Homo sapiens: one gene and its partners. The protein of the gene in region 1 purifies or fractionates together with the protein of each later gene. This does not show direct contact. Each region holds a gene or a part of one and is shown on either strand. Other genes may lie near its edges.

Region 1 (5,446 bases):
CTCTACAATCACTGAGCTATCCCCATGCCCATACCTTCCTACAGATGTAAGGAAGTTCCTGGAAGCCTGAAGAATATACTCTCATTTCCTCAATATATCTTTGAGACAAGAAATATTGGTGGTCGGTCTACCTTGGCTGGAGATTGTGCAGCTATACTGGGTGCTAAGGAGCCAAAGGAAAGACACAGTCCCTGCCCTCCAGGAGGTCACAGGGTAGTGGGAAAGGTGGACAATTGAACAATGGTTAACACGCTGTGATGGTGCAACAACAGAGGTAGTATGAGGATGGCCATAAAGTGAGCGAGTGTTGGGCCGGGTGCGGTGGCTCACACCTGTAATCCCAGCACTTTGGGAGGCCGAGGCGGGTGGATCACAAGGTCAAGAGATTGAGACCATCCTGGCCAACATGGTGAAACCCCGTCTCTACTGAAAATACAAACATTAGCCGGGCATGGTGGCGGGTGCCTGTAGTCCCAGCTACTCGGGAGGCTGAGGCAGGAGAATCACTTGAACCCAGGAGGCGGAGGTTGCCGTGAGCCAAGATTGCACCACTGCACTCCAGCCTGGCAACAGTGAGACTCCATCTCGAAAAAAAAAAAAAAAAAAAAGAGCAAGTGTTAGGGGGCAAAAAAGAAGATGCCAAGCAGAGACTGTAAGCATGAGAGAGGGGGTGTCTGAGACACGGGGAACCACGTGCAAACCCCTGAATGTGTGAGTGTGTGGCAGAGACTGCCAGATGTTACCCAGCATCCATTCGCTATTTCTTCCTTGACCACCAACACCTCTGGTTTTTACTTTTGCACATGGCAACCTAAAATAGACTCCCTGAAATAAAAAAATTTCATAGCCTCTCTTATAGATAAATATGGCTGGGTGACTAATTCTGGCCAATGGAATGTAAGCAAGTGTGGCTTCCAGGAACTATCCTTAGAGGCAAGGTTATGCCTTTCCTTGTTCCTTCTTCCTCCTGGCTGAAATGTGGATGTGATGGCTGGAGCTTGAGCAGTCATTTTGGACCATAAAGTGGAAGTCATATGCTGAGAACGGCAAACCCACAAAGTAGAAAGAACTTGGATTCTGACACTGGAACACCATATTAAGTTTGGAATGTCTACTTTTGGACTTCTTTTGCATGAGAGAGAAATGCATTTTTTGTTTTGTTAAGCTAGTGTGGGGGGATGTGTGTTCCTGTCTCTTGCAGGAACAACTAGTACAGTGTGTACCCTGTTTGGGAATTGCAAGTAGTTCAGTATGGCTAGGATACAGAGAAAGAGCTGGAAGAGATCAGAGAAATGTAGACAGAGGCCAAGCCAGGGAGCTTAGGATTTCTTCAGTAGGTTATGGGGACCAGGAAAGGGTTTTAAGTAAGGAAGATCTAAACATGCTAGAGTTCTGAATTAGTGTTTTTAGAAAAAAGAAGACCACAAAGAAGCTCCTGTTGTCACCTAAGAAATAATGGAGTAAAGAAAAGAAGTTACAATTGTCGGCTGTAGATGTGAAGACTAATTGAATGTTGAGAGTGAGGGAAAAAGGGGACCAAGGGGACTCCTGGACCTCAGGCCATTTCCTGCATAAGAACAGAGAAAAAGGAACAACTGGTATATGCCTGTGGGAGTAAGGTGGGGTGGAAATTTGAAGTTCAAGGATGAGGGCTGGGCTCACTTGAGGTCAGGAGTTCAAGACCAGCCTGGCCAACATGGCGAAACCCTGTCTCTACCAAAAATACAAAAATTAGCCAGGCGTGGTGGCAAGCACCTGTAATCCCAGCTACTTGGAAGGCTGAGGCAGGCGAATAGCTTGAACTCAGGAGGCAGAGGTTGCAGTGAGCCAAGATCGTGCCACTGCACTCTAGCCTGGCGACAGAGCGAGACTCCGTCTTGAGAAAAAAAAAAAAAAAGAAGAAGTTCAAGGATGAGACTACTGGCCAGGAGTTCCCTGGCTGACAGGCCATAAGAACTAAGAACAGAACCCACATCTTGTAACTTTTAAGTACTGTCCTCCTTCCACTGGGAACGTTGTAACTTAACAACAGCCCTTCAGGTCTATAGTCCAAGGGCAGAGCAGGCTTCCTGCTAGATGGGGATTTGTAAGATAGACGTGACTGAGCTGGTGACAGGGAGGCCTGAGGACAGAGGGCCAGTACTCCCTATCCTCATCCACCCTATTCCCCTGAAAACAGCTGTTATATTAAAAGCAAAGTGTCTTTTCTTTAGCTATGCTTCTTTCTATGCAGAGTACTGATGCCAGGTGATATATACATACTCATGAGGAATAGCAATAACTGGGATTTTTAAAAAATGTCTCCCCCTGCTATAGCCCCTTTCCAGCAATTTTGAGTATGCAAAGCAGGAGGCCAGCAACTCCTGGCTCCCTGAGACTTTCCCAGCTGTGGCTTCACCGTCCTCAGAAATTCCAAGAGATGCACGAAGCTTTCTTCTTTACAATATGTGAAAACAACAGACACCATTTAATGATGCTTACTACATGCTAGGTACTGTCATACCTCAACTCAGTTTATCTTCACAACAGCCCTAGGAAGTAAGTGTTAATATGTTCATTTTATGATTAAAGAAATAGAGATGCTAAATGCTAAGTAACTTGTCCAAATTACACAGTCAGTAAGTAAGAGAGTCTGAATTGGATTCTTAGGTCTAGCTCCAGAGACCACACTTCTTTTTTTTTTTTTTTTTTGAGATGGAGTCTCGCTCTGTTGCCCAGGCTGGAGTGCAGTGGCACGATCTTGGCTCACTGCAACCTCCGCCACCCAGGTTCAAGTGATTCTCCTGCCTCAGCCTCCCAAGTAGCTGGTACGACAGACATGTGCCACCACACCCAGCTAATTTTTTGTATTTTTAGTAGAGATGGGGTTTCACTGTGTTAGCCAGGATGGTCTTGATCTCCTGACCTCGTGATCCACCTGCCTCGGCCTCCCAAAGTGTTGGGATTACAGGCATGAGCCACCACACCCGGCCCAGAGACCACACTTCTAACCTATGTGCTATAATGCCTCACATAATGTGGGCAGGGTAGGGTACCACAGCTCTTGGGGAAGGACGTCAGAGAACACTGGATAGGAGTATGGAGTGTCAGGAGAATTTGCTTCTTGCCTGAGTTGTAGTATGTCACAGCTGGATGATACTCAAGGTATTAAATTCAGACCCATCATTTTCCAGATGGGTAAACTGAGGCCCAGAGAGACAAGAGAATTGTCTAAGGCTACGATGAGTTTGTGGCACAGTTAGAACCAGAGCCCAGAGGCAGGCTCCTAACAGATATTCTTTCTGCTCCAGCAGGACTACACCCATAAAACCATCAGACATTCAAATAAGCAAGCACACCATGAGGGTCAGGTCACCCTCAGTCTTCCTGTATCCAATGGAAAAACAGCCATTCACTTGAGCTACTTGAGATGAATGAGACAGTAATCCATGAAAATAGAAACAGGTGAAGATGAATGATAGTTTTATCCAGAGAAGAGAAACAGAAAGTGGCTGGGGCTGGGATCTGGTTGAGGGATAAGGGAGAAGCCAGCAAGCACTCCCCTCCTGGAACTTTACACATGGCTCTGAACTCACCCACATTAACACCATCTATATGAAGTTCAAAGATTTTCTACCAAAAAAAAAAAAAAAAAAAAAGGTTGCCTTGCCAGGTGCAGTGGCTCACACCTGTAATCCCAGCACTTTGGGAAGCTGAGGTGGGCAGATCACTTGAGGTCAGGAGTTCGAGATCACCCTGGCCAACATAGTAAAACCTCGTCTCTACTAAAAATACAAAAATTAGCCAGGCGTGGTGGCGGGCACCTGAAATCTCAGCTACTCAGAAGGCTGAGGCAGGAGAATCGCTTGAACCCCGGAGGCAGAGGTTGCAGTGAGCCAAGATCGCACCACTGCACTCCAGCCTGGGTGACAGAGACTCTGTCTCCAAAAAAAAAAAAAAAAAAAAAAAAAAGAAAGAAAGAAAGAAAAGAAGATTGCCTTAAAACTGGATGGGGAATTGGAAGCATGGGTTCCAGTCCTGCTCTGTGTCTAACTCACTCCATGGTATTAGATGGACCATGTCACATCTCCTGGCCTCAGGTGCCTTATTTAGACATAACCACCTTGTAAGGCCCTGCTGAGGGGACCAGCTGTTCCTGGAAGAATAAAGCTGTTCTCAAACGCCTGTACTTACCTGCAGGGGGAGTGTGACCTGGGTTTGGAGATCCTCTTAGGGGGCAGGGGAGGAGTTCATGCTGAGAATAAGTCATTGGCAGAGCAGCAGAGCCCTGGGGAACATCTGCCAGGAAAAGGCTACACCAGGGCATGGAGTGCTGCTGCTCAAGACACTGTTTAAAGTAACCTTCTCAGTTAGAAAGTAACAAATACTCACTGGGGACAGTTAGAAAATGCAAGAATAGAAACACACACACACACACACACACACACACACGCACGCACGCACATCTTCAGATATTACCACTGTGCATATTTTGGACTTTTTTCTTCTCAAATCTGTTTTCCCTCTGTTATAGACTGAATTGTGTGCCCCCAGAATTCCTATGTTGAAGCCCTAATCCCTAATGTGACTAATACCCTGTTTGGAAATAGGGCTGTGAGGGAGGTAATTAGGATTAAATGTGTCATGTGGTGGGGCCCTAATCCAATGGGGCCAGTGTCCTTACAACAAGAAGAGACCCGCAGAGCTCTCTCTTTCCACCACGCACAGAGGAAAAGCCATGTGAAGACACAGCCTGAAGGCATCCTTTCTCTGATTCGGAGAACTAGTGACTGAGACTGTGTCTGCTGGCCCAAATCAAGAAGCCCCAGAACTCATGATTGCCATCATGATTAAATTTTAGCTCCAATTATGATATTAATAGACTGTATGGCAGGGGTTCCATCAAAATCACCCAGCTCACCATCGCTGGTTTTAGACCCGTTGTTGATGGAAATCTCGCCCACCTCCCACCCGCCCTGCCAACCCATCCAGATACCTGTCTTTCAGTATCTTGAGAAGAAAAGTTGGAGCTTCCAGAAAGCTTTGGTGATTTAAAGTGCTGGTGGCAAACACCTAGAACCAAATCCCACCTCTGTCGCTTACTTTCTGGGCTCCTGTGAGCAACTTAAACTCTGGGAGCCTGAGTTCTGAGGTAAAATGGTGGTTGGTGGTCATACCTCACAGGGTTTGCCATGAAGATCAAATGAGAGAAGGCATGTAAGACCCTTAGATGGTATATATAATATATTTAACAAATGGCATCAACTATTATTTCAAGATAAGCCCCACTGAGTAATCTGGAAATGTCCTGGTTGCAGTCCAGTCAGTGTGGACTGTTGCTAGGCATATAGGAAGTAGGTCTTCTCTCTCCAGCTAGCACAAAAGCTTCCAAGGAAGCCACTGGGTCTTCTTGTCCCATTGTCTCCTCTCTCAGGCCCACAGGGTACAGGAGGTACTGAGTTGAGTC
Region 2 (3,798 bases), on another chromosome or scaffold:
GAATTCAGAGTAACCAGCATCAGTAGCCAGCAAACCTACAAATTGCATGCTTGGACGTTGTTGTATAAAGGCTTCAACGGCTTTATCTGTCACGTGCTTTCTCCCAGAAACATCCAGAGAAACAAGGTTAGGTAGGATGTCTTTTTGTTCTAGTAAGCGAAGAGCTATGTCTGATGTAAACTGTTTATCATCTGAGATATCAAGATGATTCAGATGTTTGAGTTCCCGAACTACATCCAGTATCTGGGTAGTTGTCATTTTTAAACATTTCAAGTGGTGCATGGTTAGAGACTTGAGTCGGTCTTTGCAGGCCAGTAGAGCAGTGATGTCTGTGATTGAGGTGTTAGAAATATCCAAGCTCTCTAATCTTGGCAATGAGGCAACTTCAGCCAGGTCTTCATTGTAAAAGAGAACATTCGTGATGCTTAAAGCTCGAAGGCCAGAAAGCCGGCTGAAGCAGCGCTCGTAAGGATCCTCGAGGGAGAGAGTTAATGAATTCAGCACCAGGCACTGGAGATTCTGCTGGATCCATTTGTTACTGCCAAGCCCACTGATAATGTCTGTAATCGTGATATCAGCATTCACACCTGTGGCATCAAGTTCCACTAACTTGTGGTGGCAGAAAGCTTTCCGGAAAGCAACAGCAGAGATCTTTGCTTTGCGAATGCAGGCTCGCTTTAAGCGCATCTGGTTGCCCCTAAAAATACCCACAGTTCCATCATTCAATAGACCTGTGGAAAAACAAGCAGCGTTTTAAATTCAAAAAACAGTTAAAGAATAGCCAAAATTTCCATCACACTTTACATTTCCAAAGCGCTCCCATGTAACAGTATCTCGTCTGATAATCACAATTCATTTAGGTGAGATTATTATTGTTTACAACTTGTAGATGAGTAAACTGGGGCTCAGAGAGTGGCTTTCCAAGATCACAGGGCTAGCAAGTGGCAGAATCAGGACTGTGGCAGACATTATTGATATCCACTAACATCTAGTTCTTACCTTACCAGACAACTACATTTCCCAGCCCATCCCTGGAGTTAGCTGGAGCCATGTGCCTAGTTCTGGCCAATGCACTATATGTTGAAGCACCTGAGAGCCAGTGCATGATTTTCCATGCTGTCTTTTCCTGCTATGACAAACGAGGAGACTTCACGTTCTAGAGAGTATAGTTATATGAGGAGAAACCCTCCATCAGTTTGGACCCTAGGGTGACCATGAAGCAGAATCCTCTATGGACTTGCAGAGTTTATGTACCACAAGTGAGGTATAAACCTTGTGTTAAGGTATTTGATTTGTTACCAATACATTTCTAGCCTATCCTTTAAATTCACCTTAACATATTATTATACAAACACATATACACATAATATATTTAGCATGCACTTAATGCCTTGTAATTCATTAATAAACCACTAGCCAGATCTCAAACCTTATTAAAGCGATCTAGGCCTGGGAAACATAGCAAGACCCCATCTCTGCAAAATAACTGAAAACGAGTTGGGCACAGTGGTCATGCCTATAGTCCTAGCTACTAGGGAGGCTGAGATGGAAGGATCATTTGAGCCCAGGAGTTTGTGGTTATAGTGAATTATGATTGCACCATTGCACACCAGCCTGGGTGACAGAGTGAGAACCTGTCTCTGAAAAAAAAAAAAAAATATATATATATATATATATAGTAGTTACAGCTTCCCCCCACACTCCCCCTCCTGCAGATGAATGTAAATGAAGTCGACACAGTAACCTCTTGAAGTGCCTTCGAGATCTACCTGTCTACCAATCAACAGTGTCACAAGCATATGATACTCTGGAGGCACATCAACATATCACATATCAACTAAACAACATTGACTGTGAAAGAAGTAACAATCATGCCAAAAACAGGTAGTCTAAGAATAGTATGGGGTGAATGAGCAGTTGAGGACAGGTAAATAAATAGCCTGAAGTCATGAGAGGAACTCTAAGGCGGCATCTTAGCTGGCCCATACTCAAAATGCAGCTAGGCTGCCAGCCAGTCACCCTTAAATTAGAAATGAGGTGTTTTTAAAAGGGAGCACTATTCTCTAATGAGTTTTGCAGACTTAATTACAGTTACACAGTTAAAATCAAGAAAGGCCTGTGCAAAACCTGCCAAAGTGGACAAAAATGACTAATTACATATTAAGAACTCCATTACATTTTAGAGCTGTGCTGCCCAATACATAGTCACTAGCTCCACACAGCTGGAGAGCACTTGGAAAGCAGGTGGTACAAAGTGAGGTCAGCTATAAAGTACAAAATATACACCAGATTGTGAAGACTTAATACAACAAAATAATGTAAAGTATCTCAATTTTTTATATATACTACAGGTTGAAATGATCATTTTTTAATATATTGGGTTAAATAAAAATTATTAAAACTCGTTGCACTTGTTTTTCTTTTTATTTTTTTATGTGGCCACCGGTAAATTTAAAATTACATTTCGATTAAACAATGTAGTTCTAGAGACAGCCTTTCAAATTACCTGCACTCTATTTCAGGAGAGTAAATTTCATGATGGGGTCCATTCAGCAAACAGTTTATTAAACAATTACTATATGTCAAGTACTCTAAATGTTGTAGATACAAAGAAAAATAAGATATGCCCCTATAGTCAAAGGATTCATAATCCCATGGAGTAAAAAAGACACAAACAGCCATAACAAAATGAGATATATGGTATATCAATGTCAAGTATAAAGTATCACAAAAACAAAGAAAAGGAAGTAAACCATCATGAATGAAGATCTGGAAAAGATTTGATGGGAGAGGTGATCTTTGAGTAAGGCCTTTGAAAATGCTGGAAGAATTCAAAGATAGAGAAAGGAGGTTAGTAGGCCAGGTGCAGTGGCTCATGCCTATAATGCCAGCATTTTGGGAGGCCGAGGCGGATGGATCACCTGAGGCCAGGAATTCGAGACCAGCCTGGCCAACGTGGCAAAACCGCGTTTCTACTAAAAATGCAAAAATTAAATGGGTGTGGTGGTGCGCGCCTGTAATACCAGCTACTTGGGAGGTTGAGGCAGAGAATCACTCGAACTTGGGAGGCGGAGGCTGCAGTGAGCCGAGATGGCGCCACTGCACTCCAGCCTGGGCGTCAGAGCAAGACTCCATTTCAAAAAAAAAAAAAAAAGAGGAAGAAGGTTAGGTATATTAAAGCAAGAATATACAACATAAGCAAAGTCTTAAAGATGTGAAAGCATATCACGGGGTTAGGAAATGGCAAGTAGTTCTTTCTATATTGCTTGAACATAAGAAATAGCTAGAGCCATAGATGCAGTGCATTTCTGGGGATATAAGCATGCAAATGGGACAGAAGAAATGAGGCTGAAGGTGAGCTGGAGCTAGATCACTCTGAAAGGTGAAGAGATGAAAGCAGATCAGCTAGGGGGGACCTTGGGACCCATGGAACAACGCAGAAAAGTTCCTGGTTTTTTTCTGGTCATATATCCCAGATCTAAAGTTGAAGGAGCCAGCAGCCTGGAAACACCAATGGGCACAGACAAAAACCTCCCCCAAAATCTGCTCTCTCTAGCCAACGTACCAGGAAAGCAGCAACTAGTAAGACAGGAAACAGCTAGTAGACAGTAACTGCTCTACTTCAGCCAAACACGACAGAAAAAACTGCAGCTCCACCCATGCCAGCAAATGCCAATAGGGGCCTAGATTTCTACCCCTGCCAGGCTGTAATTACTTGCCCCAATCTGCCCACAGGGGAGGTGTTAGAGAAGTCTGAGTAGAGAGCAAGGACTTTCATTCCTGCTGGGTAGTAAGAAC
Region 3 (3,483 bases), on another chromosome or scaffold:
AAAACAAACAGAATAGTTCAGGGCCAATGTAGCCAGAGCAATGTGAATGTTCTTATTGCTCCCTGATTTCAGTTCTATTGCATGGGACATCAGTGATTCCCTCTGGGACATCATGAGTTTTTGTCCTGCCTGGCCAACAAAACAATTGCAAAAAGTCCTGAGAGCAAGCAGCTGGTTTGCTGGCTTTCCTTTAGGGTTCAGAAGATTGATAAGATGACTGCTGAACTGAGCCCCTTCCTTTTCATTGCAGAAGTTCTCATTCACACTGGGGTGTTTAATTGACAACCGAAGAATGTCAAGTGCAGGAAAGACAATATCTATTAAAAAAAAAAAGTCATTAATGCTTATGAAAATAAAGAAAATTTCTTTTGACTATCGACTTTGAAGGATTTTATTTTCCCACTGCAAAACTAACCATTTTAGAAAATGTGAAAAATCATGTGTCTGCTTTAAAAAAAATGCATATATTTCTGAAACTTTTGTTAATTTTTCATATTTATATAAACTAGATTTATTGCTGTAAGATCATATTCGCTTTAAAAATAAGGTAACTCTCTCAAACAGCCTACACACTGTGAGTATTCAAAAATGAATGGAAAGAATGGGGTGCAGACTTTGCTTTTAAAAAATTCTGTAAGACCGAACAATTAAACAGGGAAAGTTCTTTTTTTTTTTTTTTTTTTTTTTGAGACAGTTTCACTCCTGTTGCCCAGGCTGGATTGCAATGGCATGATCTCGGCTCACTGCAACCTCCACCTCCCGGGTTCAAGCAATTCTCCTGTCTCAGCCTCCCAAGTAGCTGGAATTACAGGTGCACGTCACCACGCCCAGCTAATTTTTGTATTGTTAGTAGAGACGAGGTTTCATCATATTGGTCAGGCTGGTCTCAAACTCCTGACTTCAGGTGATCTACCCAAGTTGGTCTCCCAAAGTGCTGGGATTACAGGCATGAGCCACCGTGCCCAGCCGGAAAGTTCTTAAGAGAAGAATTCCAGTTAACAAGTGATAGGATGCTTATAGGTTGGTGGGAGCTTTATAATCAAGGGCCTGGGTAGATGCCATCTGAATGAATGCACAAAATAATCTTAGCATCACTAAAGGTGAGGAAATCCAACATTATGTGCTCCGTAATGTAAAAGTAGTATGCATCATCATTTATAAAGGATTTCACCTAAAAAAAAAACACCTACTGAACCAGAATCTAATTTTGCCACTAGCAATAAATACAGAGATGGAGGAACACATCAGCAAAATCCATAATATGGGACATTTTATTGAAAAAAAAAAAAAAAAGACTTTTTCTCCAATAAATCAGTGGCATAAAAAAAAATAACAGGCAAGGACTCTTTGAGAATTAAAAAAGACTTAACTGACATAATTGGAAAAAAAAAAACTTACAGTAAATATTTGTAGCCTAGGGTTAACAGGTCACTAAGAGTATCTTGGATGCCTGGCCAGGAATCCACAAATGCTCTGAAACAGTAAACAAACAGGTGCATGCCCGGGCGCGGTGGCTCACGCCTGTAATCCCAGGCTGAGGCGGGAGGATCACGAGGTCAGGAGATTGAGACCATCCTGGCTAACGTGGTGAAACCCCGTCTCTACTAAAAATACAAAAAATTAGCCGGGCATGGTGGCGGGTGCCTATAGTCCCAGCTACTAAGGAGGCTGAGGCAGGAGAACGGCGTGAACCCGGGAGGCGGAGCTTGCAGTGAGCTTGCAGTGAGCCGAGATCACGCCACTGCACTCCAGCCTGGGCGACAGAGCAAGACTCCATTTCAAAAACAAAAACAAAACAAAACAAAAAAACAAAGAAAACAAACAACAACAACAAAAAAACAAACTGGTGCATATATGGGGATCATATATTACCTTCAGATTCTCAAAAGGCATGTAACGGAAACAAGATCATCAATTCCAGTAGTGTAGTGAACCCTTTTCGTGAAGATTTTCCATAGTGATTTAGAACTACCGAAGTTAACTTTCATTTAATCCACAAATACCAGTAATATTGATAGAAATGAAGATAAAACTTCTTGCTTTCTGGTTACATTTTTGAAGAGTGTTTATTTACCTTCAGGACAGTTAATAGCTTTCCACAAAATCTGAAGTTGCTGGACTGTGGGTTTTTCTGAAGAACTATTACATATTAGAGACAGTATCTTCTCAAGAAGTATCAAGTCATCCTCAGTTAACTTCTTCTCTTCAGGTGCAGTTCCATTAAGTTCCTTCAGTTTACCTAGAACCCAAAACCAAACTTTCAAAATTCTCTAACTGTAATTGGCCAGATAATATATAAATGCCAAGACTTTCAATAAAAGTACTCTAGTGTACACCATGGGGAGTTAAGACTTTACTCAGCAATTATCAAACACCATAAAGTAAGGATAAGGCTTATGAGCTTTGTCTTTTTTTTTTTTTTTTTTGAGATGGAGTCCTGCTCAGTCGCCCAGGCTGGAGTGCAGTGGCGCCATCTTGGCTCACTGCAAGCTCGCCCCCCAGGTTCAAGCAATTCTCCTGCCTCAGCCTCCTGAGTAGCTGGGACTATAGGCGCCTGCCACCATGCCTGGCTAATTTTTTGTGTTTTTAGTAGAGACGGGGTTTCACCACATTAGCCAGGATGGTCTCAATCTCCTGACCTCGTGGTCCACCCTCCTTAGCCTCCCGAAGTGCTGTGATTACAGGTGTGAGCCACCACGCCTGGCCTTATTATTATTATTTTGAGATGGAGTCTCACTCTGTTGCCCAGGCTGGAGTGCAGTGGCATGATCTCGGCTCACTGCAACCTCCGCCATCAGGATTTTCAAGCGATTCTCCTGCCTCAGCCTCCCGAGTAGCTGGAACTACCAGCATGCACCACCACACCAGCTAATTTTTGTATTTTTAGTAGAGATGGGGTTTCACCATGTTGGCCAGGCTGACCAACATGGTGAAAAACTCCTGACCTCAAGTGACCCACCTGCCTTGAACTCCCAAAGTGCTGGCATTACAGGCATGAGCCACCACGTCCGGCCTCCATTTTGGATGACTTTCAAAGCAGTATCATGTGTAATATATATTCAAGTGTAAGTCAATAACCTAGTTTCTCCATGAGAAAATTTATAACAACTTTTTAGCCAATTTATGTCAAATTCTACAGCTGTCAATGAAATAGTCAAAGAGTTAAATGCCTACTGATAACATTTAATTTATGACTTAGTTCCATATGCATATTTGATGTCACATTATTTTAAAAATTTATTTAATGGACATACTGCCCTTTCTTCCCATGTTCTCATTTCATGAAACAATTTCCTTCAAATCCTTCGCATGTATCTTTAGTATCAGTATCCTTTGTATCATGACTTTGAGTTACTGTGTTTCTTTAAAAATCTTTATCTCAAGAATAAAAAAGTCCAAATTCCGATAATAAGGAAAATTATCCAAATTTACACCATTGAAATCAATTATAAATGGAAACTAGGGCCTGTTTCACTAATCTCA
Region 4 (3,798 bases), about 78 Mb from region 1:
TTCCTCCACAGATTGAGACTAGATGCCAACTCACGTTACAATTTTAATATAAATAGCTTATGTCTCAAAACACAGACATCTGTGTTTATAAGTCAAAGCAGTTATAATGTAGATTTGTTTTTCTTCAATAGTGGTGATAGAAATGGATAAGCTTCTCTTCTCTAGAAACATTTAAATTGTATGTGTGCAACCAGCTTTTAATGAGATGAACTGTGCCTAATCATGTAGTATTTATTATATAGCATATATACACTGTAAGTCAGCAGTTTATGACAGAAACTATCAATTTTGATCTGACAGTAAGGAAAGGGGAATACACTGTGTGGGTCTGTATACCTGCAAAAACACCGAATCAGTGTGGCTGCTCCGACAAACCACTCCCGCCAGCACACTATTCAGATTATATGTATTCTGAAGACAATCTCTGGTTTCAATGTCTACTGCTATAAGTTAAAATAAAAGCACAAAATATATCATTTTCTTACAAGGTTTTGCAGATAATTCATACAGAATTTATTTCATATGAATTTATTATTAAAAAAGGTATGATATGGCTATTTTCTTATTTTCTTTATGATAACCCTCCAATTCAGAAATTCAAATGATTTCTCTATGTAAAATAAACTAGTATCAAAGAAAAAACTTGTTTACACATTTGTAGCAAGCTTTTTCTTTGATACTAATTATTTTAGTATCAAATTAAAATCATTTACTTTGAATATTAAAAGATTATCACTTTATGGTATATTTACACAATGGAATACTATTTGGCCATATAAAAGAATGCATGCCATTTGCAGCAACACGGATGGAACTGAAGGCCATTAGGTTAAGTGAAATAAGCCAGACACAGAAAGAAAAATATTGCATGTATTCATTCATGTGTAGGAGCTAAAAAAGTTGATCTCATGGAAGTGGAGAATGACAGTTACCAGAGGCTGGGAAGAATATGGGTGAGTGTGTGGTGATGGGAGGTGTGAGGGGGAGCCGTTAGTGGGGGAGATGAAGACAGATTGATTAATGGATATAAACACACAATCAGATGGAATAAGTTCTAATGTTTGATAGTAGAGTAAGGTGACTATAGTTAACAATGTATTGTATATTTCAAAATATGACTTGAAATGTTCTAAATACATAGAAATGATAAATCCTCATTTGTGATGGATATCCTAAATACCCTCAATTGATCATCACATACTTTATGCAGGTAACAAAATATCATATGTACCCCATAAGTTTGTATAAATATTATGTATCTGTGAAAAAATTAATTTAAAAAGATTATCATTTCAATTTTTCTGGAAACCTCAAATGCTTCTAAAGTATAAACACTGGAAGTGACTGGCATATTCATTCAAACTGTTGGTGGATGTTAGAAGTGGAAGAATCTTTTCAGAAAGCAATTTAGTAACGGTTATCAAATTTTAGAATGATCTAGAAATTCTAATGGAATTTATCTAATAGAAACACACTAATATTTGAGCAAAATTACATAGAATGTTCACTGCACTATTGATTCCAATAGCAAAAACTTAAAGACAGTTGACTGTCCACTATTAGGGGAATAGTTGAATAAATTACAGTACCCTGTAATTAAGGCACTAGGCAGCTATTAAAGATACTGATATGGAAAGAAACATCTGGTGCTCCACAACACCATTTGTGCTGAAAACAACCAATTAAAGATCCAAAAGTATTGTTTTGTTACAGCACAGAAAAATATCTGCAAAGAAACATACCAAACCATTAAATGAGATTATACCCTCAAAGCTGAAAAGATGAGGGCTGGTGGTAATGGGTACAGGCTCACCCCATTTTACTCTATGTCTGGGCTGTCTAATTTGGTAGCCACTAGCCTTCATGTGGCTATTTCAATTTAGATTAATTAAAATTAAAGATTCAGTTCCTTAGTCTATTACCCACACTTCGAATGCTTAATAGCTCCATGTGGCTAGTGGCTGCTACATTGGATAACACAGTTTTAAAACCATTCTGTCACTGAAGAAAGTTTTATTGGACAATGCTGCTCTGTGTTAATACTTCTGGATCACTAGAATTTTTTAAACTATGCATATATTACTATTATAATCACACAAAGAAATATCCCCACCGCCCTGCCCCAAATTGGAGTAGTGACCACTAAATGAACATTTAAGAACTAAAGAAATGGGGGAAAAGATAGAAAAAGCAACATCAGTACTTTTACCCTTTAGTTCTAAATTCAGTGTAATCTATTACAGAAGGATCATTCTTTGATCGGTAGCTATGACTTCCTCAGTGTCAAAAGATTCACAATGCACACTAGACTGAGAAGTCTTTGAAGGTGAATCATTCTTTAAGAGATTCTATAACTAAGCCTGCACTTTAAAATATTGTTCATACATCTTCCAAAAACTAAAAAGGAGAAATTAAATGCATTACCTAGTTGAGACAGCAAACCGATAATACTTAAGATCAGTGAAGCACTTATGTTGGGGTCTTCAAGTAGCTCTACAAGGCAACTCAAGCATTCACTTGTTAATATCTGATTTGATGTAAATAGTCGTGTGAGTTTCTGTCCAGAAATTACCTATAAAATAGTAATCAAAATGTGTTGGTTAAGCGATGGCAATTTTCATCTCTTCTCCATTTCAAATAAAAAACTCAGTTCCCTCAAAGTGCCACTGCTACCTTCCCAATTTAAAAAATTCACACATGCTGTGAAAAATTCACCCCTGCCTAGAGTACCCATCAATTACCTAATCCCTCCCTCCCTAGCTAAAGTAATCATTTGGATCTCAGTTTAAAATAATTTCCACCAGGAAGCTTTTCTTAGTTTCTTATACCATCTCAGTTCGGTCGGCCTATTATGCTATCCTATAGTACATTATATTTCTATTTCCTAAGTTAGCAAACTTTTGAGTTCCTAGCAATATTTCTCCTTCACACTACATTGAACATGCGATGAAGGCATAGCCTACAAATCTGCACTCTAGTACCAATATATTTACTATGCAAATAAATTCTAATACATTCTACTTACTTTGAGGGAGGAGAATGAAAAATGAAGCCCAGAGGGTAGTTATGGGATTATTCCTTCTGCTTCTTCCCAAAGACAATAGGTGAGCTCAGAAGTTAAGGGATTAAAGAAGGAAGTGAAAAGTGAATCTTTTTTTAAGTAGCCAGGCAAGGCATTGAAAAATTTTATTTCTGATTATTCCATTGTTTTTTTTACTTTCTTGTAATCTATAAGCCACATACACGCATGCACAGACACATACATACACACACACACACACAGAGTGAAAGAGAGAAGAGAGGAGGTAAAGCTGGAACTAAAGGCCAAAAGCAGTTGTCTCAAAGCATGAATTTTCAACATACTTTATGGATGTATTTATTACAAAGCATATCTTTTCTACAAAGATGGCAAAACCATTAGTTACCTTAGAATAAGACTAACTCTGTCCTGAATACTTATTTTAATAAGATCAAGCCTAAGCAGGCTGCTTTAGCATCCCTCTAATCTTTCCTTTCTGTATCCTCCCTTTATTCTCTCACCCACATCAGTTTTTCTTCTAAGGCTTTGCTGATAAGAGTTTCACATTATCTGTTCCCAAGGAGTGTTTTAACATTACTAAAGTAAAAGTCTATACAAGAAAAAATAAGTCCAAATATGAAAGTGCAGATGCCAGTAACAGATATTCTGGGGTAGGAAATACTGTGGGCATTACCCTGTTGCTTATTTATAAATCTAGCTCTCCAGAATAAGACACTTGCTGTTTTAAAAATGATTCTCTATAGGATTGGTCCTGTATC

The links. Proteins that work in one complex are often made in the same cells at the same time.
Region 2: the proteins of ST6GAL1 (region 1) and ZYG11B purify together in Homo sapiens (affinity purification with mass spectrometry; 2 studies listed by BioGRID and IntAct, with this or other methods). This does not show direct contact.
Region 3: the proteins of ST6GAL1 (region 1) and PLAA purify together in Homo sapiens (affinity purification with mass spectrometry; one large-scale study listed by BioGRID and IntAct). This does not show direct contact.
Region 4: the proteins of ST6GAL1 (region 1) and CIP2A purify together in Homo sapiens (affinity purification with mass spectrometry; one large-scale study listed by BioGRID and IntAct). This does not show direct contact.

The regions. Positions count from the first base shown.
Region 1 is NC_000003.12:187,065,587-187,071,032, reverse strand, and holds part of ST6GAL1 (beta-galactoside alpha-2,6-sialyltransferase 1), read right to left. Parts: intron 1-5,446. UniProt on the Homo sapiens protein: Transfers sialic acid from CMP-sialic acid to galactose-containing acceptor substrates. In B lymphocytes, generates neuraminidase-sensitive lymphocyte cell-surface differentiation antigens, such as CDw75, HB-6 and CD76.
Region 2 is NC_000001.11:52,767,953-52,771,750, reverse strand, and holds part of ZYG11B (protein zyg-11 homolog B), read right to left. Parts: intron 732-3,798; coding exon 1-731. UniProt on the Homo sapiens protein: Serves as substrate adapter subunit in the E3 ubiquitin ligase complex ZYG11B-CUL2-Elongin BC. Acts to target substrates bearing N-terminal degrons for proteasomal degradation with the first four residues of substrates being the key recognition elements.
Region 3 is NC_000009.12:26,905,760-26,909,242, forward strand, and holds part of PLAA (phospholipase A-2-activating protein), read right to left. Parts: intron 2,240-3,483; coding exon 2,075-2,239; intron 318-2,074; coding exon 1-317. UniProt on the Homo sapiens protein: Plays a role in protein ubiquitination, sorting and degradation through its association with VCP. Involved in ubiquitin-mediated membrane proteins trafficking to late endosomes in an ESCRT-dependent manner, and hence plays a role in synaptic vesicle recycling.
Region 4 is NC_000003.12:108,582,641-108,586,438, forward strand, and holds part of CIP2A (protein CIP2A), read right to left. Parts: intron 2,573-3,798; coding exon 2,425-2,572; intron 444-2,424; coding exon 337-443; intron 1-336.